4 linked regions of the Homo sapiens genome follow. The protein of the gene in region 1 interacts with the protein of each later gene in a pairwise test. Each region holds a gene or a part of one and is shown in the gene's direction. Other genes may lie near its edges. The genes, in order: SNX18, MSS51, HSF2BP and GOLGA2.

What was found.
Region 2: the proteins of SNX18 (region 1) and MSS51 interact in binary tests that used the Homo sapiens proteins (3 or more experiments, as listed by UniProt).
Region 3: the proteins of SNX18 (region 1) and HSF2BP interact in binary tests that used the Homo sapiens proteins (3 or more experiments, as listed by UniProt).
Region 4: the proteins of SNX18 (region 1) and GOLGA2 interact in binary tests that used the Homo sapiens proteins (3 or more experiments, as listed by UniProt).

The regions. Positions count from the first base shown.
Region 1 is NC_000005.10:54,541,738-54,547,105, forward strand, and holds the end of SNX18 (sorting nexin-18), read left to right. Parts: intron 1-1,441; coding exon 1,442-1,695; 3' UTR 1,696-4,849; downstream 4,850-5,368.
Region 2 is NC_000010.11:73,430,528-73,438,242, reverse strand, and holds the start of MSS51 (putative protein MSS51 homolog, mitochondrial), read left to right. Parts: upstream 1-4,681; 5' UTR 4,682-4,730; exon of another isoform or gene 4,731-7,715. Other genes in the region: PPP3CB (serine/threonine-protein phosphatase 2B catalytic subunit beta isoform), read left to right, coding at 1-1.
Region 3 is NC_000021.9:43,628,472-43,635,511, reverse strand, and holds part of HSF2BP (heat shock factor 2-binding protein), read left to right. Parts: intron 1-2,090; coding exon 2,091-2,240; coding exon of another isoform or gene 2,241-2,249; intron 2,250-5,057; coding exon 5,058-5,190; intron 5,191-7,040. UniProt on the Homo sapiens protein: Meiotic recombination factor component of recombination bridges involved in meiotic double-strand break repair.
Region 4 is NC_000009.12:128,266,008-128,273,007, reverse strand, and holds part of GOLGA2 (golgin subfamily A member 2), read left to right. Parts: intron 1-142; coding exon 143-223; intron 224-4,483; coding exon 4,484-4,588; intron 4,589-4,847; coding exon 4,848-4,891; intron 4,892-5,010; coding exon 5,011-5,074; intron 5,075-5,490; coding exon 5,491-5,550; intron 5,551-5,733; coding exon 5,734-5,814; intron 5,815-6,682; coding exon 6,683-6,721; intron 6,722-6,987; coding exon 6,988-7,000. UniProt on the Homo sapiens protein: Peripheral membrane component of the cis-Golgi stack that acts as a membrane skeleton that maintains the structure of the Golgi apparatus, and as a vesicle thether that facilitates vesicle fusion to the Golgi membrane.

The DNA.
Region 1 (5,368 bases):
CCTACACGTACATATATATGGATGAAATTTGCTGTTGGTGCTTTTTCATTTCTCAGGTCTTTGAACTATGCCAAAAAAGCATACTGCTTTACGTTTAAGGGTTTTGTTTAATATTATATTATTCTTTAGGAGATTTGAAGAAATTTAGAAATAGGGCATCTTCCCTTGTATATTTCACTATTGGGCAAAACAACATTTCCGAAACAAAGTCTCTCAGTTTCTGTACCTCCTCCTACTCAAGGTTCCTGGTTCCCTCCTCAGTAGTACTGTGTTCTCAGACTGCCAAGCCAGGCACTCTAGCTGTTTGTCTCTGTGTTCTGTCTTGCCTTTCAGTATGGTTTAGTGGAATGAGTGCTAGGCACAGTCGGGAAATCTGAATTCTTAAGCTGGCTTTGTTCAAGTGATTTGAGCTTTATTACTACTCATTCCTAAGAACTCAGGAATAGCCTATTTCCTACCCCTAAACATCCTCAAACTTTTGTGTCTTTGTATGACTGTGCTTTCGGGGGAGGGCCTGCGTTCGTATGGCACCTGCCGGAGTGGTCAATCCTTCACCCCCACCCCTGCAACACCCTCTGTTGATACTTCTAGGCATGAGATTATGGAACCGCTGGCATCATTCCTAAGTCATCATTAGGGCAGAGTTAACACTCACCGATCCTTATAGTCCCAAAAAAGGGGCAAATTCTTATTAAAGCCCTTGTACTCCAGGTGTGGGTCTCCCGATGCAACGTGAAGTCAGAATCAGACATGTGTTCGCAATTCACCCCTTCACCAGGCACTTTCTGTGTGCTGAGCACTTCAGCTAGGTGTTTACTCTGGATGACAAGATAATGGGCTAGGCCAGCCCTCATGAGGGTGACCTCCAATTGTAGACTGGCAACATTGCCAAGCACCCTCCATGACTGTGACATGATTCCAAAACACAACCTGTGTTGGTACTAACTTGTTTCAGAGACTGGTTCTAGAGTCTGAATTATTTAGTGAGACTTTCTGAGGAAGTGGGTTTGGATCCTTTATGGGATGTTTTTATAAACAGTATAATTCTCTTAATATATGTGGAAATAATGATGTCACACCTTTTGAGCCTGTGAAAACTGCAGTTTCTTGTTGTGTCTTTTTAAGGACATTTCCTTGCAGTTTATTATCAGTTATGTATAGCATCTCTACTTGGAAGAGATGGGATACTACAGATTCTTGGTCAATGTAACAAACACTAGTTTTTGAAGAGAAATTTTAACAAAGGGAGTGTTTTCAGAAACTTTACCAGATTCCTTCTTTTTTTAAAATGAGTAATTATGGTCCTCACTTTAAATTTCAAAGGTATTGAAAATAGTTTGGGCAACTATTTATAATGCCCAAGATTCTGTTTAATATGTAGTTATGTTCTTGGGATATGTGGATATATAGGTTTTTAATTAATTGTTATTTTTAACTACAGGAGCTCTTACCAAAGTCAAGGAGAGTAGGCGACACGTGGAGGAAGGGAAGATGGAGGTGCAGAAGGCTGACGGCATTCAGGATCGCTGTAACACTATTTCTTTTGCCACTTTGGCTGAAATTCACCACTTCCATCAAATTCGAGTGAGAGACTTTAAATCACAGATGCAGCATTTCTTACAACAACAAATAATATTTTTCCAAAAAGTTACCCAGAAGTTGGAAGAAGCTCTTCACAAATATGATAGTGTTTAATGACTGGACGTTGGATTATGGACTTTTTCAGTTCAAGGATAATTTCTACAGCAGAATAAAAACTGCTGTCAAAGAGCTATTGCCAGCTATCAGTGGTGGTACAAGGACGGTTTTGTGTTCATCTGAAACCCAGCTGAATTTATAATTATGTAGGAAATAAACAGTTAATATGGTTATATAATAGAAACAGTACCACACATTGTAACTAAATTATACTATGTATGCCTACACTACCATTGTAACTTTTGGAATAATGATTATACTATTTGCCTTATTGCTTTTTGAAGTATGGGTATTTTAGTGCATACTTTGTAGACCTCAAAACCCATGAAGGGTCTCAAAGAAGCTGGCTGGATACAAGCCTGCTGTGGATGCCTTTTTACTCTCATAGATTGGGATTACCTAAATTCAACCTATTCTCTGTTTACAAACTCCAACTAGAGCAGCTATGCGACCTTGTGCCTTTAGACTCTTGGTTTTTCATTTCTCCCCGTCCCTTCCCCACCTTTTTAAAGTAAGCCACAGCTTTTCTGATTGAAAGAGTGAAAGGCCAGTGCATATAATGACAAACTGATGATAACCTTATATTGGCAGTAGGGGGTGGGGGGGGCGGTGGGGTGGGACGATCAGCTGTCATCAATTTGCACAGCAAGTATTATCTCCTGATAAGATGCTGGTGAATGCAGGGGAGTGAGATTCATTGCTCATCTTTGGATATGAAGTCTGTTAGGGAAGAAACAGTGCCACTATTCCCTTAGATGCAACAGTAGCATAGCCTCTTCACCCAGGCGTCCCAAAAGCTTGGCGTGAAGATTTCAGCAAACATGTCTTACAACATGAGGAGGAGGAGTCTAAATCAGTCAGGGGATAAAAGTATCGAATCATTGACAACACACACTTGGCTTTAGTTCTTAGGAGGGTTTTGTTTTTGTTTTTGTTTTTAGGTTGAAGATTTTCTTTTAATATTCAGTTTTTTGAAAAAAAATGGATCTACACTGTTAACTGATTGAGACTCCACTGTGATTCACTTGTTTACTTAAAAACTTTTCAGGGATGTCTGTAAATTTCAGTGTTAATATGTCATGAAAAGTGGTGTGGATTGATCTAAGGAGGGACCAGAAATAATTTTTGCTATTCCAAATACTGAAGGAAAAAGATAATTGATTTATACTATGTTTTAAAAAAAAAAAAGGTATTGATGAGCCCCCCCCCCCCAGGACATTTAACCTTAAAATTTATTTTAAATGTATTCTTTTATTATTATAAGGGAAATACAGATGGCTGATAAATACCAAAAAGATTCAAAAGCAGCTTAATTTAAAAAGCACAAAGAGATTCTGGCTTACAGTGCCCCAATCTCAATGTTTTTATAGTTGCTGAGCTAACTAATGTGATTATTGAGTTTACAGATTTAAAAATTGTCACTGTTAGAGTATCTACTGTTTTTATGAAGTCAAACTTATGCTGCCTCAGAAATCCCTGGGTACTGAAATGGTAACATGGAAGTGAAGAGGTCACTTTGAAATATTGGTGAGTCACAAAGATTAAAGAAAAGGATCAGTTTGCAGATACTCAGAAAAGGTTATTGAAATAATTACTGAACAGCACATTTTCTCTCTAAAAAGTAGTTTCATATGGGTTGTATTTTTAAGATCAGATTATCATTTTGATATTTGGTCAAAATTTTGTACCTTAGGTTACTTAGAGCCAGATTTAACATCATGAACATTATGTGGCTTTGTCTTTACTACAGATATGTGGAACTGTAACCAAATATGTTGTCTCTAAAACTTGTTGATTGCAAAATACAGTTCTATAAACAAAACCCATATGTATATATAAATGTTAATTTTGCGGAAGTCTGGAAATTATAACTATAGCATTTAAGTTTGAGTCTGTATTGGACAAATAAGCACCATGCTTTTCAAATGATTTAAAAATTACTTTTATTTGCCTCTTTATTTTGATGGTGGTTGGATTTTTTTTTTTTTAATAGTAAAATCACTAAACTTGTGCAATGGTAGCATGGAAATTATCTGAGGTATATTGTATGATTGTACTTTAGCCAGGGTGGACATAGCTTAAATTATAAAAACTAAAGATGAAAGTACAAGGAAGTATAAGTTATACTTATGTAAGTATAAATTCATGCTGCCTACTTCTAAGAGAAATTTCATTCTTCATAACCACATAACATTATAATGCCACTGATTCATACGGGATTTACATTAATTCTATGGGGGAGGACACTAGAATTATTAGTGTTCATTTTCATCTAAGATCTTTATTCTCTAACGTTCTTGGTCCTATTGAAACATTGCAGTATGCAAAACTACTGCAATGTTAAACCCAAGAGAAAAGCCATTATCATGTGTATGCTGGTCATCATGATCAGTGTGGTACAATTTTTAAAAATAAACTATCATGCCCTTCATGCCATTATTTGTCTTTATTTCTATGATTTATAATCCTGATATGTGATGTGTTTGTAACACAGGGTGTGCACTTGAGCCTGGTTTTACTGTTTTTATTAGACAGAGTTGTTTATATGCTGTAACTGTAACGCAGCGAGACTGGTTCTACAGCCATGTGTCGTAATCTTGTTCCCCGTCCAAGCTGTTGTATCTGAAGGTACCCAGTTTGCACCCAGGATGAGGGAACGCATTCAAAAGTGAAATGTAAAGCCAGTGCACGAATATTATAGTAATTGAGATTTTCCCAGGCTTCACTGATACAGTTGTTTTGCATTTATTCACAATAATACAGCAGATTCTTAAATGCCGATTTTTAATTGTCTTAAATTTTGCTGCTGTTCTCATAATTAAGGACTTGAAAAATGTTTTAGTCTGTCAAGTATGTAAAGTTTGTGTAAAAACTTTTAAATGTCATTCTTAAGTTCATTGCCATAGCCATTTTCCATTTATGTCTTCATTTTCCAAAAATCAAATGCCATGTCTGATACCTTTAAGTCCATAAGCATTCAATTTTCTCATTTCCACCTTCATCTTTGGTTAACAGAATAAGTAAAACAGGGTATTATTTATTTGTAGTCTAGAAATGTTGAATATTGTTTTATTTCCTTCAAAATGTTATGATTAGTGCAGATCAGCCATGTTTATCTTTTTAAAAAATAAACAGGTTGCTTTATTTCTTAGCTTCAATGGAATATAATTATTTTTTCTCCACTCATCAAGGAGGCATTTATTTAATGTGAAGAATTACACAGAAAAATAGAAGAGCATGTTCTGTCTTGAGCTTCATCTGCAGTTACCATAGAAATTATTCATCAAACACTGTAGCTAATTTGATTAATTTAAAACCATCATCATTCAGATAGTCCCATGGAGTATCTGCTTCCATTAGTGACATCAGGAATTAAGCACATAGCAGTAAGTTGTGAGTGAGAGGTTTTGAAATAATAGCTCCCATGAGTCCAATACCTGAGACAGAAGCAGGTGCTTAAGTAAAGTACTTGACATACTGTCTGTTGGTTGCCATAAATAGGCGAACTCCAACACACATAAGCCAAAATATAATAGCTACGGGACCTGGCATATCTTGCAAGGGGCCAAAGTCCCATTTGGCAAAGCTTGCCCTCTTTGTGGGGCTTTGTAGTCTTGTATCTGCTTATCTTTACAGATTTGTTTTACATATATGTTTTTTCTCCTGGCCT
Region 2 (7,715 bases), on another chromosome or scaffold:
ACCCACTACTTCCCAGGGACTCTCACATCTCGGGCCCCAAATGGACAGATCACCCGAGGAGCTGGAGGGGTCGGCCAAGCTGACTGTAAATTTCACAGTCTCTCTGAAGAAACCATTGTGCTTCTGAGACCCTAGCCCCCTTCCTGGATGGAGGCTTGAGGGCCCTGGGACATGTGCTATCTGATAAGATTGGGTCATCGCTGCCAAGGTGGAGAGCAGTGAGCAAGGGGCTTGGGGCAATTTCCAGTGGAGGGCATCCACACCTCCATTTTATGCTTGTGGTTCACACATTTAAGTTTACAAATCAGATTTCTTTTCCCCTTCAGTAGAATTAGATTTTGTTTTTCAATCATGATTTCAAATGCAATCCTAAGAGCTAATGTGGACTTTTCTTTTTCCATGAAATGTCTTTAAAGGATGAATTAGCATGGTCTTAAAATACATTTCTGAGGTTACTAGCTGTATTTTGAATTGTGAGCAAAATGCCGAGAAACCCAGTTGGCATTTATACAAAATGTTGACCTCAGGTCTATAGTTCTTAAATGTGGCTAATTCTGTAACATAGTCTTGGTATTTTTTAATTATGAATGCATATCCTATTTCCAGGCAGGCTCTCTTACTTGAACACAAATCCAAAAACTAATTTAGAGTCTTTTTTGCCCAGATCTTTTAAGACTTACACCCCAGAGATTTAAGAAGAAAACCTCTAAATTTCAAAATTATGAAGAATTACAGAATTACTCATTTAAGGTACTTTAAAAGAAGTTTGTACATTGTCAAAGTAAATTTTAATTCAAATCATGTCTGTAAAACTTGACGTATTTTGTGTATGCATGTTTTCATTTTGCAAATATTTAATATATAGACCTATGATGTACAGGTACGACATGTATAGGTTACCTAGATGTTATGAGAAATTTTAGTTTATTGTGAGTACTCAAGTTGCTTAGAGAGCCACCAGGGTGATTTGCTGCTGGCTTTCTATCATTTTTATGTTTTAATGCAAAGGAAATTTTAAAATGTTCTGGAAGTGTTTTTGATTAAGCAATGCAGCCTAGAAGCAATGGTTCTGTTCAATCATTCAGATGTTAGTGGAAGCATAAAAGTCAAGACTGCATGTTGAAACCTTTCTTTTGATAGTTACTGAACTGCTTGGTTAAACTAAATGGAACCATGTGCTAATTTTTCACAATTATTGACCTGTATTGATTGCCACTGTAGTTTGGTATTTCCCTTTACTTTGGTGGCCTGCTTCCCTCATGCCCTGGAATACAACTCAGAGCTCCAGGCAGCGGAACCATCTATTGTTTTGTTTGCCAGAAAGTGCACCCTGTATGGTCTCCTGTCTAAGTTGGAAATATTATGCATGTGCAGGACTATTCGAGTATTTTATAAACAGTAGCACACAATAAATTCCATGCATGGGCCGCTGCTCCTATCTCTGTGTTGGGTTTTATTTGGAAGATGCAATCTGATTTGTCCTTTTGATGCAAATCAGAAAATCCTGTTACTAGAGCTGGGATGTCCTCCGGAGATTATCTCGTGGATAGTTCATGGTAATTTGATTAATTAAATTCTTTATAAATTTTGCCTTAAAAAAAACTTTTGTTATATACTTGTTTTACATGAGCATTAGTAACTGAGCACTAGAGGACTTTGAATGCCTACTGTAGGCCTCCTAAGTCTAATATTTAAGATCACTGTTTATTGTCTTTTAATTGAAAGAAAATATGTTATTGTCTAGAATTTTGTTATAGTGGTATTGGGAATTTACTGGGTGTTCTAACAATAAGAAAAATATTAGTGATAATTGCATTTTCCTATCATTCCTTTCTTCTTTGTCATAATCACAATAAGTATAGGATTTTGCACATTGAGGGATATTAGGATATTGCTCAAAATTATATAATCATACAATAACTTGAATTATAGTTCTCAACAATAATTACAATGAGATATATTATAAAACACTAAGTCAAAATATAGGCAGGGCACAGTGGCTCATGCCTGTAATCCAAACACTTTGGGAGGCTGAGACAGAGGATTGCTTGAGCCTAGGAGCTCATGGTTGCAGGCTGTGTTGAGCTATGATTGTACCACTGTACTCCAGCCTGGGTGACAGAGTGAGACCCCATCCCTTAAAAACAAACAAAATATATGTAAATATATTAGGCAAGCGCACACACACACACACACACACACACACACACACACACACACACACATGCTTGCCTAATTCCAGGTAACAAACAGAACTTCTCAAATTGTTTCTTTTTTCTTTTTCTTTTGCTTTTTTTTTTTTTTTTTTGAGACGGAATCTCTGTCTGTCACCCAGGCTGGAATGCAGTGGCATGCTCTTGGCTCACTGCAACCTCCGCCTCCTGGGTTCAAGCAATTCTCCTGCCTCGGCCTCCCAAGTACCTGGGACTACAGGTGCCCACCACCACGCCTGGCTAATTTTTGTATTTTTAGTAGAGATGGGGTTTCACCATGTTGGCCAGGCTGGTCTCAAACTCCTGACCTCGTGATCCGCCCACCTCAGCCTCCCAAAGTGCTGGGATTTCAGGCGTCAGCCACTGCACCCGGCCACAAATTGTTAATTATTATAACTCTCTGCTTGCCAAAATATTAACTTACAAAGCAGTCCATGAGTTGGCTCTAAAGTTATTATGCATTGCATACCTTAAAGATTGTTGTCTATGTTGTTTATGAAAGTTGCATACCTTAAAGATTGTTGTCGATGTTGTTTTATGAAAGCTATTCAGTAAAGAGTTTATCTGGCTAAAATAGACCCAATAGAAAAATTAAAAAGTAAGTAAGAGTTTAACTAGTATATTAGGTGCCAGGAACTTTCCTAGCCCTTAGGTACATAACTAGCATTATATAGTGTTTGTGGGAATCATGGGTGAGCATTAAGTAGTATTAGCAAAAAAACTATGGATTGATGGTAAAAATTAAGAGGAAAATAAGAGAAAGGAACCAAACTCAGGAAAAGCAAAATACCTGAAGAGTGATAAAGTATCACATAGTGCCTCACAGACCACTTCCTACATGTTGAATAGGAACCTCTTTCTAGTCTTTCTTCATAATTCATTTCACAGCATACCATTTATTAAGATTTTTTAAATGCAACTCATGATGAATACAAATTGTGAAAAGTTCAGACTTCGTAACTTTAAATGTTTACCAGAGCAAGTCATAGTGATAGTAAAATATAAGTATTCAACATCAAAGTTTTTCTATATTACTATTCTCCTTTATATTCATTGACAACTTCTGAATTAGAAAAGTCAATCTCTGATGTCTTGTATCTTCTGCAGTTCAGCCATTATTAACAGAACTCAAAACATTTGAGGTTCTCAGATAAATTTTGAAGCCTGTTAAATTTGAAGTTGGCCTGAAACTTTTGCACAAAGTGAATTACCCCTATTTTATTTAGGGTTTTTGCCTATTGCAACTGATTTTCCTTTATCCACAGCTATTCTACATAATGTTATGCAGTGTTTGGTTGAATCCTTAACACTTTTCTTCCACCTTCCCTGCATGTAGTTTGTACTTTTTACAGTTTGGGGTTCCTGTGTGGATTTGATTTGCCACATTCCGGGACCTCATTGCGAGTGATTCTGTTCCCCAGTTTGATGATGTTCAAAGAAGCAGGTAAGTGAGAGCTGGGGTCAGATATAAGCAGAAAGTCAGAACTTTTTTATTTAAAAATTTTAAAAAAATTTTTTGAGGGTAAGAAAGATCTTGCAGTCTTTTAGGACCACTGCCCTAACAACTTCAGATAGGCTAGCTGTAAGTAGAAAGAAGCTAGGACTGTGGAATTGAATTTCCTGGATCAGCTGCAATTACAAGGAGGATAAGAGAATGGTTGAGCTGATTCTTTTCTATTTTCTTTTCCTAGAAATAGTATGTATTTTTAGTCATTAACTAGTATTTTGGTTTTGTTTAATATCCCAGAAGCATTTATTCCTCTCTTAATACAGGTAAAGTGCTCCTGATGACTCTCTCACTCAGAGAGTTATCTTACCCTTCTTTCAGGGAAAGTGAATTTTACAAGTTAATTCTGCATGTTTCCCCTACAACTGATTTCATTCTGTACCATTAAATGGCCATTTATTTTCTCCCTTCTACTTAATCCAAGATTGGACATTGTTGAGTTTTGTTTGAACAATGTTTGTTATGCTGAAAAAGGACACCAGGCCTGGGGGAACTCATCCTGTGTCTAGATCAACAAACAGAACTCCAGAGGGTCCTCTGGTTCCTCCCACTTGGTTGGAAAGGTGCTTACCCTTTCCAATCAAATATTGACTTCTGCACTAATCCAAAGGGTTTTCTTCTGAAGCTGTAAACTGAGAACAGAAATATTGCCTTGAGTGAGAGAAGTCTAGGAAGCAGCAGGTTTCATTTTTTGTCAGCCTGCCTGGCCTTTACTTGGCTAACACTTGGGAGTGTTGACAGTCCTGAGCCCCCTTGGCAGAGAACAAAGGTTAGAGAGAAGCCCTCAGGCAGGGGGACAGATCCCTCTTTGCCTCATTAGGGAGAATTCAGCCTTGTCTGTCTGGTTGGCAGGGCACACTTAATCACTGAGACTCAGCATTTCAGCAGTTTGCAAAGGAAAGTGATATGAAGGGACAGCTGCAAGTAAGCCACAACCTAGATCTGAAGAGATCAAGCACTCATTTCACTTGGAGGAAAGAGAGAAGGAAGGAAGCTGAGGACTTAGCAGGGTAAGTTTTTTTTTCCGTCAACCTGTCTGCTTGCTTAGTTTATAATTGAGTAAAGTATTTATCACCCCAGGCAGTGTTAATCACTGATTAAACAGCTGAATGTGGCCATAATTACAGTGTCCTTAATGTATTTCTCCTTCTCTTTTCCTACCCCCTTATAAGGATCTCCAATGACCAGTTTCAGTCTTCCTTCTCCCTACCTCTCCAAAGACGTTTTGCATTTTTTGGTGACTTACAGAAAATTAGATGAGCACTCCTTATCTGGAGATAGTGAAAATATGACTGTAGTTTAGGTGAAACTTGGGACTCTTGGTGGTAAAGAAGAAGATGGGAAACCTAGGTCTAGGAATAGATTAATATTTTGTCTTGAATTTGGACATGAAGGATAAAAGTTTTTCTAGGCAATCAAGATCATGTCTCCTCTCCAGTTCTTGGTGTTGGTGTTCTCTCTCTTATACTGGGACTAAATTAGAGCCTAAGTCACTGGGGATGGCTAGAAAAAAATGAAAGGGATTCCCTTTCTAAGTGGAGAGCATTCTAGACTCTGGAAAGTTCAAAGAGCTTACTGCAATTCTTTCCAGCTTCTCCTGTGAGTCCCCTGTTTTTTCCTTTGTTTCTCTCAGTTTATAACCTGTGAACAGGGAGTAGCCTGGGGCTCTTTACAGGAGATTTAGAACCAGGGAAGCTGTGTCTGGGCCTGGGGTATATAAACTCAAACATGAACCTGATGATGTATATAGATGCAGATCAAAGACCTGGCTTCTCACCCACCTTCTTTCTTTTCTGCCAGAAAGCTAACTCATTTGTATCATGAACATTGTGCTCTAGACACAGAGGAGACTGTGACATTAGGGATTTTTACCACCACTCCTCTTCCTCAAACTGTGTGATCCTTTTGCTTTCTGACCAGTTCAGCCAACTCCCAGATTGCCAAGAGCTAATCTTCCTTTAGAGGAAGACCTCACCTTGGAAATGCGGAAAAGTAAAGCAGTACCTTTCTGACCTTAAGTGGCTTGCTTCCATTGCAGCAAAAAGGCTTATGTTTTAACTTCAGGGAGATATCTATTATAAATTCTGGGATTTAAGACCCTAGAGTTGTCTCAAATCACACTTTCCTTCCATACCTATTTAAAAAAAAAAAAGTCATTCTTTCAAGGTTTAAGAAAGTGGTGTCTTGGCCGGGCGCCGTGGCTCATGCCTGTAATCCCAGCACTTTGGGAGGTCGAGGTGGGTGGATCACGAGGTCAGGAGTTCGAGACCAGCCTGACCAACATGGTGAAACCCCATCTCTACTAAAAATACAAAAATTAGCTGGGCATGGTGGCGCGAGCCTGTAATCCCAGCTACTCAGGAGGCTGAGGCAGGAGAATCACTTGAACCCGGGAGGTGGAGGTTGCAGTGAGCCAAGATCGCACCACTGCACTCCAGCCTGGGTGACAGAGTGAGACTCTGTCTCAAAGAAAGAAAGAAAAAGAAAATGTTATCTTGCCTGAGGCAGGTGGGTAGAGTAGATAAATGCTTTTTGTAGAATGGCAGTGATTCTGAAAATGCAATGAGAATGTGAGGTGATTAAAAGTGGAGGACAGAATGAGGTTAGTTGTTGGAAATTGGGCCCTAAAGTGTGAAGGGCAATTCCATTTACTCTTTTGGTAAAAGGACATGACCCTTAAACCCTAAGATAATCTAATATCATTAGGTCCAATTTCTTCATTGAAGGTAATATATAGGATATGGTATACAGATGAGCTTGACTATTTCTGTTCTGTGGACTGAAACCATCCATTCACCCATGGGATAAGGGGAGACATTAAGAGGGTGGATGGAAACATAAGGATGAGGAGATAGAAAGTACAAAGGAAAATACAAATTTGTTCCTCCATTAACCTGAGGACAGGTTTTTAAGAGTCATGTTGTAAGATATGGATATGAGCTGGATAATTCTGGGAGCTTTTTGTTTATTTTTGCCACCTGCATACACCTCAGCTGCATGATGATTCTGAGGTTTTTCCTAACAGATCTGATCTAGAAGGATCAAATGTCAGATCATTTTTGTAACAAAACATGATCCCTGGTTTGAACTTTAACAGTTTCCTCATTCACACTGCCAGCGTTTTTAATCCTCTGTTATTTCTCTGTACCTGAAGACAATCTGGGGATTAATAACTTTTTAGCCTCTCAATCTCTATGAATACCTTCCTTCCTTTCTTTTTTAATCGAAGTGAAAATCATATAACATAAAATTAATAATTTTAAAGTGAGCAATTAAATGGCATTTAGTGTATTCACGGTATTGTTCAACCATCAATTTTGTCTTGTTCCAAAACATTTTTATCACCCCAAAAGAAGACCCCATAACCATTAAGCAGTTACTCCCCATTTTCCCTTCCACCCAGCCCTTAGCAACTACCAATCTGCTTTCTGTCTCTGGGTTTACCTATTCTGGATATTTCATAGAAATGGCATCATACAACATGTATACAACATTTTGTGTCTGGCTTTCTTCACTTAGTATAATGTTTTTTGAAGTTCCTCTACATTGTAGCGTGTATCAGTATTTCATTTCTTTTTATAGCTGAATAATATACATCTTCATATGTATATTTATATCCCAATTTGTTTATCCATTTATCCATTGATGGACCTTTGGGTTGTTTCTACCTTTTAGCTGTTGCGAATAGTGCTGCTATGAACATTCACATATAAGTATTTGTTTGAGTATCTGTTTTTAAATATTTTGGGCACATACCTAAGAATGAAATTTCTGGTTATATAGTAATATTATGTTAACTTTTTGGGGAACTGCCGTACTGTTTTCTATGGTGGTGGCACCATTTTACATTCTCACCTGCAGTGTACGAGGGTTCAAATTACTCCATATCCTCATCAACACTTGTCATTTTCTGTTTTTTTTTTTTATAATAGCCATACTAGTGGGTATGAAGTAATATCTCACTGTGGTTCTGATTTGCATTTTCCTAATGACTA
Region 3 (7,040 bases), on another chromosome or scaffold:
CATGTCAGTGTTTCACTGATCTATATGTCCATCCTTATAGCAATACCACAATGGTTCTATTTCGGTAGGTTTATAGTTAGTTTTTTCCTCTAAATCAGGCACTGTTAGTCTTCTAACATTGTTCTTCTTTTTCAGACAATTTTTTAGATATTCTGTCTTGAATTTCCATAGAAATTTTAGAATCAGATTATCACTTTGTACAGAAGTCTGCTGAGATTTTGATAGGGATTGTGTTGAATCTGTAGATCAGTTTGGGAAGAATTGACATCCTGCCAATTTTTGAACATGGTGTATCTCTTTATTTAGCTCTACTTTCTCTCAGTAATGCTTTGTAGTTTTCATTGTATAGGTCTTGCACCTTAAAAAATTATTCTTATTTTTGATGTTACTGGGAATGCTATGATTTTCTTTGAGGTTTGTTTGTTTTTTTTTTGATATTATTATACTATGTGTGGAACCCTGCGTTGGGGAATATCCTCCTGCAACTACCAAATGTGACTGTAGTGAGCAAAGTCCTTCCTGGTTCTTCTCAGTAGTCTTTTTGTGGTCGTGCAGAAGAACCACCATATCCTGACTAATTGAGATGCAGACAGCTTAAGTTGTGAGAAAAGCTAGAATTCCAAAAGGAAGTGCTGTGACATAGTTTTCTTCATGTGTCACCATGACTTGTGTTCAGCTACGTACACTGAAAGGATGAATCTAGGAGTCCAGATTGTTGCTATAATGAAGACATTAAAAACCCGGAGCTGACAGATCACATGATGCAGTATTAGCATGTGCCAGAGGCTCAGTGGCCATTTTTTTCTTAAATACATGTGTGCATATACGTATGAATGTGTATGAATCTCTGTGTGCCAAACGCATTGTCTCCAGGTAACTATGAGTGGGCCACCCTAATCCAAGTTATGAGGTCAACAGTTTTGATTTGTGGCTCCAAAGCTCCCTTTTTCCTCCAGGGGGTGAAAAGCCCCCTCTACTTTGTCTTGTATTTATCTCTCTAAAAGAAAATCTACAGCATTTAATATACTTTAATTTTGTGGTTTATGTAACTAATTACATTTGGTATAAATGAATTTAACTGGGGTTTTATATTTTTCAGTTTTTGTCTTATTAAATCAGGAAATGCTATCACCTTTTAAGGGAATTTCAGGTACCTGGTGCTGGTGGTTGGAGAGGACAGGAAGCCCCCCATCACTCTAGCAGTACACTCAAGGTGAATCCTCGAAGTGTGCTTGTGTTGTCAGGAGGGCCATCAGGACGGCCATTCCCTGTGTTTCCCTTGTGAAGAGTGCCATGGTGGAGACTTGCCCAGCTACAGGTCACCTCAGACACTGCTGGTGGGAGAGTAGGAAACTCTTCCTAGCCTCCATCTTCTTCTTAGACTGGCACTGGCTTGCTGCACCAGGGCATGAATAGGACTCCCAGCCTTCACACTTCTTTTTGCCCCTCCTCCCATCTTTCCTACCTGGTCTTAGGTTTTAGGTTTTCTTTCCCTGTTTAGCTTCACAGATTGTATTTTATATTTACTGGCACCTTTGGCAATATTCTCATGAGGAGTTAAGGATACGTTTATACAGGATGAGTTTTTCTAAAGTACTTGTTTTTTTACAAATCCTGATGTCCAAGTGCCTTTTATTTGGTGTCTGCCTCTGGCAGATGGCGTTTTTTCAATGGAGTGAGCCATTTGGAGGAGGCAGTCTCCTGTCTTAGAAATGTTGCTTTCTGGGTAAATTGCTTTGTGAGGTTGTTTTTGTTCAGAAGCCTCGGTTGGTGCTGGTTCTGGGTATAGTTACTTGGGGCTTGAGATATTTCATGTAGTTACTTAAAGCAGATGAATTCAGCTCTGTGGGTTTATCAACCATAATGTGGTAGTATGTTCTTTCCTCAGATATTTCTCAAATATTTTTGCCTTTGAAATTTCTTTTGTAGATACAGATTATGGTTCTCTTAGGACTAGCTTTCATTTGCAACTATTTTCTATAATTATACATGCATTTCTTTAATAAATATCTTTGTGAAAGAGGAAATGTAATAAAGATATATCAAGGTTGAATGCTATTATTTATTTTTCAATTTTGTTTTGCTTTTAGGAGAAACTGGCTCTTCGACAGCAGTTGAATGAAGCGAAGCAGCAACTCCTGCAGCAGGCAGAGTATTGTACAGAAATGGGAGCAGCAGCGTGTACCCTCTTGTGGGGTGTCTCCAGCAGTGAGGAAGTCGTCAAGGCCATTTTGGGAGGAGTAAGTATGGTCAGTGGGCTCTCCAGATATTGTTGATTACTGCTTGTGTAAATTAGAGCATATAGCTTATTAAGGCATTTAAAGACTAAGTCCATATCTTTCCATTTTCTTTTGTTCACTCATCAGCTAGTTATTGAATACTTATCGTATATGGTTCATTGTAACCTGATGCAAAGGGAATGAAATAAGATCCCTTCTCTCCAGGAGACCTTGTGGTATATGTGGACATATTACCACTTCAGTATTAATACTTTACATGTGTTTAAGAAGATCAAAAGTGCTTTTATATATATTATCTCATGGTTAATATAGTATTTATTGAATATTGTGTTATCTAACATATATACATGTATGTAGATGTGTGTGTGTGTTTATACATACACACACACACACATACATATAGATGCAGAACCTTGAGCAACATGGAGGTTGGAGGCGCTGACCCCCTGCACAGTCGAAAAGCCACATAGAACTTTTGACTCTCTCTACTGTTGGCTGGAAGCCTTACTGACAACATAAATCGTTGATTAACACATTTTTTGTATGTTAGATCATCATGAAGGTCTTCCCCCTCATCATCTTCAAATTGAGTAGGCTGAAGAGGAGGAGGAAGAGGAGTGGTTGGGTTGGCATTGCTGTCTAAAGGGTGGTAGAGGTGGAGGAGGTGGAAGGGGAGGCTGGAGCAGCAGACACACTTGGTGTAACTTTTACTGAAGAAAATTCTTGTGTAAGTGGACCTGTGCAGTTCAAACCCTTGTTTTCAAGGTTCAACTGTGTGTGTGTGTGGCAGCGTGTGTGTGTGAGCATGTGTGTTTGAGCATGTGCATGTGTGTGTGACTGTGTGTGTGTGTGGGAGCATGTGTGTGTGGGGGAGTGTGTGTGTGTGGGGGGGGAGCGTGTGTGTGTGGGAGCGTGTGTGTATGGGAGCATGTGTGTGTGGGGGAGTGTGTGTGTGGGAGCGTGTGTGTGTATGTGGGAGCCTGTGTGTGTGTGTGGGGGGAGCGTGTGTGTGGGGGAGTGTGTGTGTGTGTGTGTGAGCCTGTGTATGTGGGATCGTATGTGTGTTTGTGTGGGGGAGCATGTGTGTGTGTGGGGGAGCGTGTGTGTGTGAGACTGTGTGAGTGTGTGTGTGGGAGCGTGTGTGTGTTTGGGGGAGCGTGTGTGTGGGGAGAGCGTGTGTGTGTGTGGGAGCGTGTGTATGTGGGAGCGTGTGTGGGGGGGGAGCGTGTGTGTGTGTGGGAGCATGTGTGTGTATGTGGGAGCCTGTGTGTGTGGGAGTGTGTGTGTGGGGAGCGTGTGTGGGGGGGGAGTGTGTGTGCCTGTGAGCCTGTGTATGTGGGATCGTGTGTGTGGGAGCGTGTGGGTGTGTGGGAGCATGTGTGTGTGTGGGAGCGTGCACACGCACATGTATGCATGCGTGCAGGCATTTGTCAGGGAACTTCACAGAAGGGGATAAATTTGAAATGGGCCTTGATGAATAGGTAGAAATGGCAGAAAATGGGTGGGTTTGTTTTAGGACAGTGAGTAGGTCAGTTGACACAGTGGAGAGTTAATGTCATAGAGTAGTGGGGAGGTAAAGCTTAAACGTAGGTTGGGATGTGACTTTGGGACCTTGAATACCAGGTTGGTGATTCATTCTGTAGGTGGGAAGACTGGATTTTCCCTAAGGGTTTTTCAATAAAAGTGATAGGATAAGAGCAGAATTTTAGAAAGATTCACCTGACAGTGGGTGAGGATGGATTAGGAGGTGGAGTTGTGGCACATCGCGTCTACACAGGATGACTGATGAGGTGGTCATTCTAGCTGGTCTGGCTGGAGTGAGCTCGGCCCTCTGCAGGGGAGATGGGAAAGAAGGAACATGTATGAGAGCTGTGGCAGTTGAGGCAGATGCGATGGCCGGGCAGAGTGGGCACCTGGAGGGGACAAGAGGAGCCAAAAAAGATCGGTGTTTGACTCTGGGAGCATGGCGTGATCATGACTGGAAATGAAGGTGAAGAGGGGGACGTGTGGCAGGAAACCAGTGAGAAATTAGTTACTGCTAATAGAAATAACAGTTGTGTTTGACTTTAGGTGGAAAGACTAAATGTGTTTTTAAAAGTTTGTTGAGCTTTATTAGGTTTAATTTACATACTGTAAGATTGTAAATGTACAATTTAGTGGTTTTTAGCAAATTTTTAGAGTTGCATTAACCATCACCACAACCCAGTTTTAGATTATTTGATCATCCATGAAGTTTTCTTATATCATTTGTAAATGCAAATATTTCCAATTTTTTAACTGGGTTAAAATGTACATTGGTTTTAAAATTCTTCTTCAGAACTCTAGCACCCCAAAGGAAGTAACTCAAAGGTTCAAACTTGGAAATGCTTTTTGCCAAGTGATGAAGATTTAAACTACCAGAGGAGCCAGTCTTTACCTCTTTTACATGTTTTCATTAAGATTTTTTTTTTTGAAAAAAGTTATGCTAAAGGTTTGAACACCTCTGGTTTAATGCCCAGAGCAAATAGGCAGCATGTTTTTCTAGTATATTTTTATTACATTTTGAGTGAATTCTTCCCATTTACTTTCATCATCATGTACATTTGTCCTATATCATATTTATGCGTGTGAAGAGTCCACCAATCTTCAGGGTAGTTTTTGTTGCTCCTGCATGCCTCAAGCTGCTTTCTCTGTTCTTTTAATGGGAACTTTTAATGAGGGAATAGATTTTACAATATTCTACAATTAAAACTAGAATCTTCTGTATCCTGCACTTTTAAAATGTTTTCACACTAGTGTCTGTAAAAAGATATGACACTCTGATTTTCAAACTTTCAGGATAAAGCTTTGAAGTTTTTCAGCATCACTGGTCAAACAATGGAGAGTTTTGTGAAGTCGTTAGACGGTGATGTCCAGGAGCTGGATTCGGATGAAAGTCAGTTTGTTTTCGCTCTGGCTGGAATTGTCACGAGTAAGTGCAGGCGCACCTGAGAGATGTTGCCTGTTTGCTTCCAGACCACTGCAGTAAAGCAAATACTGCAATAATACATGAGTCACATGAATGTTTTTGGTTTCCCAGTGCATATACAAATTATGTTTACACTATACTGTAGTCTGTTGTATGTACAATAGCATTATGTCTAAAAAATGTACAAACTTTAATTAGAAAATTCATTATTGCTAAAAATGCTAATGATCATCTGAGCCTTCAGCAAGTTACAATTTTTTGCTGGTAGAGGGTCTTGCCGTGATATTGATGACTGCTAACTGATCAGGGTGGTAGTTACTGAAGGTTGGGGTGGCTGTGCCAATTTCTTAAAATAAGGAACAATGAAGTTTGCCACATTGATTAATTCTTCCTTTCATGTAAGATTTCTCAGTAGCATGTGATGCTGTTTGATAGCATTTTTTCCACAGTAGAACATCTTTCAAAATTGGAGTCAGCCCTCTCAAACCTTACTGCTGCTTTGTCAACTAAGTTTATGTAATATTCTGAATCTCTTGTTCTTATTTCAACAATGTCTTAGCATCTTCACCAAGAGTAGATTCCATCTCAAGAAACCACTTTCTTTGTTCTTCCATAAGAAGCAACTTATCCTTTTTTTCTGCCACCACGTCTGTAGTTACTTACTCCACTGAAGTCATGAACCCTTCAAAGTCATCCATGAGGATTGAAATCAACTTCTTCCGAACTCCTGTTAATGTTGTTATTTTGACCTCCTCCCATGAATCATGAATATTCTCTTGTTGCCCAGGCTGGAGTGCAACGGCGTGATCTCGGCTCACTGCAGCCTCCACATCCTGTATTTAAGTGATTCTCCTGCCTCAGCCTCCCAAGTAGCTGGGATTACAGGCATGCGCCACCATGCCCAGCTAATTTTGTATTTTTAGTAGAGATGGGGTTTCTCCATGTTGGCCAGGCTGGTCTTGAACTCCTGACCTCAGGTGATCTGCCCACCTCAGCCTCCCAAAGTGCTGGGATTATAGGCATGAGCCACTGCGCTTGGCTGAATCATGAATATTCTTAATGGCATCTAGAATGGTGAATCCTTTTTAGAAGGTTTTCAGTTTACTTCACCCAGATCCATCAGAGGAATCACTGTCTATGGCAGCTGTAGCGTTATGAAATGTAGTTCTTAAAAAAAATAGGACTTGAAAGTTGAAATTTCTTTTTGATATATGAGCTGAAGAATAGGTATTGTATTAGCAGGCATGGAGTCAACATTACTTTCCTTGTACCTCTCCATCATGGCTCTTGATTGACCAGGTGCATTGTCAATGAACAGTAGTGTTTTGAAAGAAATCTTTTTTTCTGAGCAGTAGGTCTCAACAGTGGGCTGAAAATATTCAGTAAACCATGCTGGAAACAGGTGTGCTGTCATCCAGGCTTTGTTTTTCTATTTCTAGAGCATAGGCAAGAGTAGATTTAGCATAATTCTTAAGGGCTCTAGGATTTTCAGAATGGTTAAATGAGCATTGGCTTCAATTAAAGTCACCCGCACCATTGGCCCCTAACAAGAGAGTCAGCCTGTCTTTTGATGCTTTGAAGCCAGGCATTGACTTTTCTCTAGCGGTGAAAGTCCTAGATGGCGTCTTCTTCCAATAGAAAGCGACTTTGTCTACATTGAAAATCTCTTGTTTAGTGTAACCACCCTCGGCAGTGATCTTAGCTAGATCTTCTGGATAACTTGCTGCAGCTTCTCCATCAGCACTTGCTGCTGCACGTTGTTTTTATGTTATGGAGACAACTTCTTTCCTTAAACCTCATGAAGCAACCTGTACTAGCTTCCAGCTTTTCTTCTGCAGCTTCCTTACCCCTGT
Region 4 (7,000 bases), on another chromosome or scaffold:
GCCATGGTATTGATCTCCTCCACTCTTCTTATTTCATTTCCCTGAACCCACATCTTCCTCCTTCCCTGACTTTCTTGCCTCTCTCTAAGCCACTTCTACCTTTCTCCCCCTGCCCTTGTTTTTCCCTTTTCGCCTCCTGTAGATTCAGGACATTCTGAAGGTGCTGGTGTCCGACCTTAACCGTTCCAATGGGGTAGCGCTCCCCCCATTGGACAAGTGGAAGGTGAGGCAGTGCCGAGACCCCTCTCTGGCTTGCTCTCTCCAGCTGTGCATGCCCCTGAGGCTTCTCTGGTTTGGGGGATACTTTGCCTCTGGCTTATTTTATGTTGCTGCCATTAACCTTCCGCCTGTTTATGTCCGCTTCTTCACCTGCTTGATTGATTGGGTTTTTATTCTTCCCCCAAATCTTTTATCATCTTGGAGAAGGTGAGACATATCTTAAAGTTTAAAAGTTTAAAGGTAATTTGGGAATAACTTTTAGAGCAGGTGTGTGGGATTTGGGGCTTTTTTTTTTCTTCTTTTTTTTTCAGAGACGGAGTCTCACTGCCCAGGCTGGAGTGCAGTGGCACAATCTTGGCTCACTGCAACCTCTGCCTCCTGGGTTCAAGTGTTTCTCCTGCCTCAGCCTCCTGAGTAGCTGGGATTACAGGTGCCTGCCACCATGTCTGGCTCATTTTTGTATTTTTAGTAGAGATGGGGTTTCACCATGTTGGCCAGGCTGGTCTTGAACTCCTGACCTCAAGTGGTCCACCCACCTTGGCCTCCCAAAGTGCTGGGATTACAGGCGTGAGCCACTGCTCCCAGTCTGGGATTCTGGGATTTGGGCTTTTGAATGCCCAGTGTGGGTACTCTCAGACTAGGAGAGATGAAAAAAAAAAAACACAAAAAAACCAACAGACCTTTAGGTTTTACCCTAAAGGCAAAGATCAGTAAACCACCTAGAAGTTAGTGTTTTTTTTTTTTTTTTAAATTAATTCACTTTGGTTTAAGAGTAGGGAACAAAGGGTTAAAAGAAAATGAGTTCACATTATAGTTGGAAGGATTGAAGCTATTTTTTCAGAGGAACTAACTGTAAAAGTTGTGAGGTTAACCAAACAGATGAGTGACCAAGACGTTCTGCCCCTAATCTCTCCAAATGGACATTTAGCCATATTCATTGGGCTCTTGACAACAAAGGCACTTTGATAAATAAACAGTGGATAAAATAGATGAACAAGGTAGGCTGCACACCGAGGGAGGCAGACTCCTCTGAAGGAGGCAAGAGAGAATTTTGGAACATTCCAAATGCTCAGCTCGGGGGGAGGTTGGTTCCAAATGGACTCCAGGCTGGAGAAGGTGGCATTTGAAGCTGGCTTGAAGATTAAAGGTGGGTAACATTAATCCATATGGGGAGTGGGGGAGGCAGGGGGAGCGGTGAGGCCGTGGCCAGAGTGTGAACTCACAGAGCACCTTTCAGGAACACAGGGAGCCTGGTGGGGGGCAGGGCATGGAGGTACACAGGGCTGGGAGACAACCTCCTCTGGCTGTGATTTGGCATTTCTTCCATCTCTAACTCACCTGGGGGACTCCTTCCTGCCAAGCCAGAGGAGCAGGGCACGAATAGAGCCTGATCCTGTTGGAGATGGGTATGGGGAGAGGGACTGAGACAGAGCAGCCTTGGCTGCTGTTAGAGAGTTGTCCAGTCTCATACCTGTTACCCTCCAGTTGATCAGGTCTGTCCAGGTGCTGTGACTCACCTTGCCAGCTCAGAGGAGACGCTGAGTGGTACGGCTGGGGAGCACAGGCTTAGAGGTGACCTGCAGCCAAAAGCATTTGGCTTTTGCTCTGCCAATGGTCCAGTGGATTAGGGGGTCTTCAGCCTGTTTCCTAATGCTCTGAGATTCTGTGCCAGCCCAGGTCCCTCTATTCTGGAAACAAAGGCCTAGATCCCCGTATTTCCTTCTTGCTGTTTTGTTTTTGTTTTTGAGAAAGAGTCTTGCTCTTTCTCCTGGAGTGCAGTGGTGTGATCTTGGCTCACTGCAACCTCCCCCTCCCGGGTTCAAGTGATTTTCATGCCTCAGCCTCCCAAGTAGCTGGGATTACAGATGTTGCACCATCACGCCCGGCCATTTTTTTTGTATTTTTAATAGAGATGGGGTCTTGCCATGTTGCTCAGGCTGGTTTCGAACTCCTGGCCTCAAGTGATTCACCTGCCTTGGCCTCCCAAAGTGCTGAGATTACATGTGTGAGCCACCATGCCCAGCCCCTTGCTGTTTTTATACCTTCTCTATATCCGTAACTGTTTCCAATGTAGGTTTTGTTTTTTTTTAATTTCTCATTTTTATTACCATGTAAGTTTTCTACTCCAGGAATGCAGGCCTGTGATCGTAGTATCCTGAGCGGAGCTGATAACATTTCCAGAAGTAGGGAATAATGGAGAGAGAAAAAATATCTTAATGGGATGGGACATTTTGAGGAGAGTAGGCTTTTTTAAAAACTCCATCTTGGCTACAAGACTTAAAATAATGAAATAACTTGGTTGCTCACAAAATAATCATGCTATGTGTGTCAGAAAGTCCTCAGAAAAATGCTTTTTCAGCCAAGTGCAGTAGCTCATGCCTGTAATCCCAGCACTTTGGGAGACTGAGGAGGGTGGATCACCTGAGGTCAGGAGTTCGAGAGCAGCCTGGCCAACATGGTGAAACCCCATCTCTACTAAAAATACAAAAATTAGCTGGGCGTGGTAGCGTGCACCTATAATCCCAGCTGCTTGGGAGGCTGAAGCAGGAGAATCTCGAACTCAGGAGGCGGAGGTTGCAGTGAGTGGAGATCTCGCCACTACACTCCAGCCTGGGCGACAGAGTGAGACTCCCATCTCAAAAAAAAAAAAAAAAAAAAATTCCCTTCCTCTGAGCATTCTTGTGTCTAATCCTAGAGATCAGTGGGAACCGAAGATGCCAGGAGGGCCCTAAAGCCTAGCAGGGTCCATTGCTAGGAGTGCCAGCCTTCCCTCAAGGCTAATGCCTGGCCAGCAACTGAACCCTTGCTCTGACCTATTAGATTCAGTTGTAGGCATTGTCAAGGAAACACCAGGTTCCATGGTCACAGTAAACTTGCAAAGATGCAAAGGCAGCTTGGCTCATCTTCAGTTCCACCAGCCTCTGCAGCACTTGCTCTAAGGAGGGAAGCAGATTTGGGTTTTCAGAAGCCAGGGCTGAAGGGTCCAGTGAGCGCGCAGTCCTTTCCCTGGAGAGAGGTGTAGTCACTTCTCCCAGACCCAGCTTCCGTGGCCAGGCCCTGGCTCCCTGGTGTTTTTCTCTTGTCCAGCTTAGCTGGTCAGCCAGCTTTTTCCACTGTCTGCCCATCTGGCTTGTCAGATATTAGAAGATCTCTAGAACCAGAGGCTTGGGCGAAGAGTAAGGTCAGAGCCTGGAGAGAGGCTGGGTGGGGCTCTGATCAAGCAGGTAGGTCCAGTTGGGGGCAAGGGAGAGGCTCCACATGACCCCAAGTTCTGAATCCTAGGATTGTCCTCAGGTACTATTCCCAGGAAAGAGGCCCTACAACTTCCAAGTTGCCAAGAGCCACAGGGAAGATGTCTTACCTCTGTTTTCTTGGGTGGTTTCTTGGCTGGGTAGATGTTTTTGGAGGTAAGAGGTCGGGGTGGGGGTGTTGGCCATGGTTTATCCTCTTTTTACCTCCAGAGAGTTGGAGAGAGTCTTCTAGTTGGGCAGCTTTTTTTTTTTCCCCCTGAAAAGGCCTGAATCAGAAACACAGCCAGTAGGCCAAGTGCAATGGCTCACACCTGTAATCTCAACATTTTGGGAGACCAAGGTGGATCACTTGAGCCCAGGACTTTGAGACCAGCCTGGGCAAGATGGCAAGACCATGTTTCTATAGAAATTAGCTGAGCATGGTAGTGTGCACCTATAATCTCAGCTACTAGGGAGGCTGAGGTGGGAGCATTGCTTGAGCCCAGGAGGTGGAAGCTGCAGTGAACTATGATTGTGCCACTGCAGGGGAGAAGGGAAGGGAGGAAAGGAGGAGACAGGCAGATAGCTACATTGTGCATTGCCCAGACAACTACTTCCTCATCACCATCCTCTGCCCAGTAGGGGCCCAGTGAGGGTCACTCTGCAGCACAGACTGGCCTTCTGGAAGAACAGTGCCTTTCTCCTCCCTGACTTTGGCACACCTTCCTCCTGCCTGCTGTGGCTGCCACAGGTCAGAGCCTGCTGCTGTCTTTTGCTGAGCTCCAGGGAGAGCGAGGTCCTCGTGTTCATGAAGGAGGCCGTGCAGCCCCTGCTTTGAGCTTTGGCCATCTGAAATGCTGCCTAGCAGCCCAAGGCCTGGGCAACCAATCCACACCCCTGAGTGGCTCCTAGCATGTGTGACTGTCACTCTGACTGCAGCAACACCTGTCCTACCTGTTCCACACCCTTGTGTTCATAGTACTGAGGCACCTCTCCCGCATGGCCCCCTAACCCCCTGCTCTGTTCTGTGACAGACACCCAAGGACAATGCTGCTACTCTACAACCATCTGATGACACCGTGTTACCTGGCGGTGTCCCTTCCCCTGGTGCCAGTCTCACTAGCATGGCGGCATCTCAGGTTCGTGCCTCCTCCCCCTCTGCCCACTGCCCTCCTGTACCTATTATGCATTATCTTCTCCTTTCACAGGCAGCTTGTTCCCTAGGGTCAAGGGCCCTTCCTGGGGACCGGGCCGGGGGAAGGCTCAGACTGGGCTTTTTTCCTTGAGGCCTGGGGAGATTGAAGATTGTTAGAATGAGTTTGGGAGCTTGACTCACCCCATCCTGGGTGATTCTTACCAGAAATTGAATGACCATCTCACACGTTTCTTCCCAAACAGAATCATGATGCTGACAATGTCCCTAATCTCATGGATGAAACCAAGTGAGTGTCTCCTGTTGGGGCAGCAGTCTCTAGGCTGAGAGAGTCAGGGAGGCCACTGCCCATGACCTTCTTTCCCATTGAGCCACCTGCACCCCTGACCCCTGTGTCTCCATCCCTAGGACTTTCTCATCAACCGAGAGCCTGCGACAACTCTCCCAACAGCTCAATGGTCTTGTTTGTGAGGTACCTCAGGAACTGAGGCCGAGAGCGGGGTGGGGGGAAGGGAACTATGATAGAAACTGAAGCAGGGATTCACAAGAGAGAGGGAAGATCCTGGGACCAGCCAATGTGCTGGGCAATGTTAAGGAAGTCGCCTTTTCCCTGAGCCTTCTCCCTTGAAGTTGTGCACATGAAGGAGTTGGACCCCATGACTGGTTGCATCATTGTATCCTGCTGCAGAAGCACTGGATGAGAGCTGCTCGGGAGGAAAGGATGGTGGGGAAATAAGAACCATGAGAGAAGTTGGCACAAAGGGGTTACGGGACAGAGGGTCCAAGTTAGAAAAGAAAATGTTGCCAATTGCTGGGGAAGAAACGAAGTTAGAGGGCTTAGACACTGAGGGGACAGAACATCTCCATGTGCACTCTCGTCTCTTATAGTCTGCGACATGTGTCAATGGGGAGGGCCCTGCATCGTCTGCTAACCTGAAGGATCTGGAGGTAAGAGGCCCTGGGCCGTGGCCCAGTGACCCTGCAGGCCAGCCCTCCAACCTCCTCCCACAGCGGGGGCTGGGTGCCCCTCTGCCAGCTGAGACAGCCCACACACCCCCCAACCCTAATGATTGCTCTCTCTACCTCTCCCCCCAATCCTCCTCCAACTCCTCCTCTCTGCATGCGCCTCAGAGCCGGTACCAACAGCTAGCGGTAGCCCTGGACTCCAGCTATGTAACAAACAAACAACTCAATATCACGATAGAGAAATTGGTAAGAGTCCAGTGGGGTCCCCTGATTCCATGCTGCTAATCCTGGGCTCCAGTTTCCCCTTGGGACCCTGAAGAAAGGGGCAGGGGGCCCCTGGTGCCAAGGGCGAATGGGGAGCTGGGGGGCCCAGGCCTCAGCTGGAGGGACCCCAGAGCACGGAGCATGCAGCATGGCTCTTCTGTTGCTGCCCTCTTTGCCTACTCTCTCTTCTCTAGACACCCCTGCTCGAGTCCTTGCCACACACGCCCTGGGGTTGTTGCCTCTTGGGGAAGCGCTAGCCTGACTGGTTGTCAGGAGCCCTGTATTTCTGCCCTGACTCAGTCCTTAATTTGCTCTTTGATTTGGGACAAGCCACCTCTCCTCCTTGGGCTTGCATTTCCTGAGGAGGTAGAGTTAGAGAGTATCAAAGGTCTCTTAGCTCTGAGAGTCCAAGATTTAAAGGCCCATTAGAATGTAAACCTCAGGGCCAAGGGCTCCTGTCTGTCTTTTTCTGTCTGGTATCCCTGCTATTAAGAACCGTACCTGGCCTGTGTGTGCTCAGCAAATGTTTGTTGAATGATTACACCTTTCTAAATCACAAACTGGCAGAGGGTGGGCTTTTCTCACACTCCATCTCTAGAGGTTTATGTTACTGTCCTTTCAAGAGAATCGAGATTCAGACTTTCAGTTCTGTGGCTGTGGGCAAAAACCAACAAAGACACAAATCCCCTTTCCTTGAGAGCCTGAGGAGAGTTTACCAGTTCGTGTTCCCATTGGGTCTGAGAACTTTGCCTTTAAAATCCATTCCTGGCCCCTGCCTACCCGTTCCTGGTCTGGGGAATAGAGTTGAGGGGGCCACCCTCAGTCACCTTCCTTTGACTCTTCCCCACAGAAACAACAGAACCAAGAAATTACGGATCAGTTGGAAGAAGTAACGTGATTTCTTTGTTTGCTCACAACATGACTGCTGGGTTTGGGGGGCATTCAAATGTAGAGGCCTCAGTCTCGTCTCACCCACTCCCAGCCTGGGGAAGAAGGCTCACCCCCCCAGATTCCACCCCATCCCCACAGGGTCCCTGATAACCTGGTCCCATGGGTGGGCCTGTCCTGGGACATTGGTGGCATTCTGGGGGCATGTCCCTTGCTGTGCCGTCTCTGCCTCCCCCTCGTAAGAGCTCTGTCTTCCTCTTCCTATAGGAAAAGAAAGAAT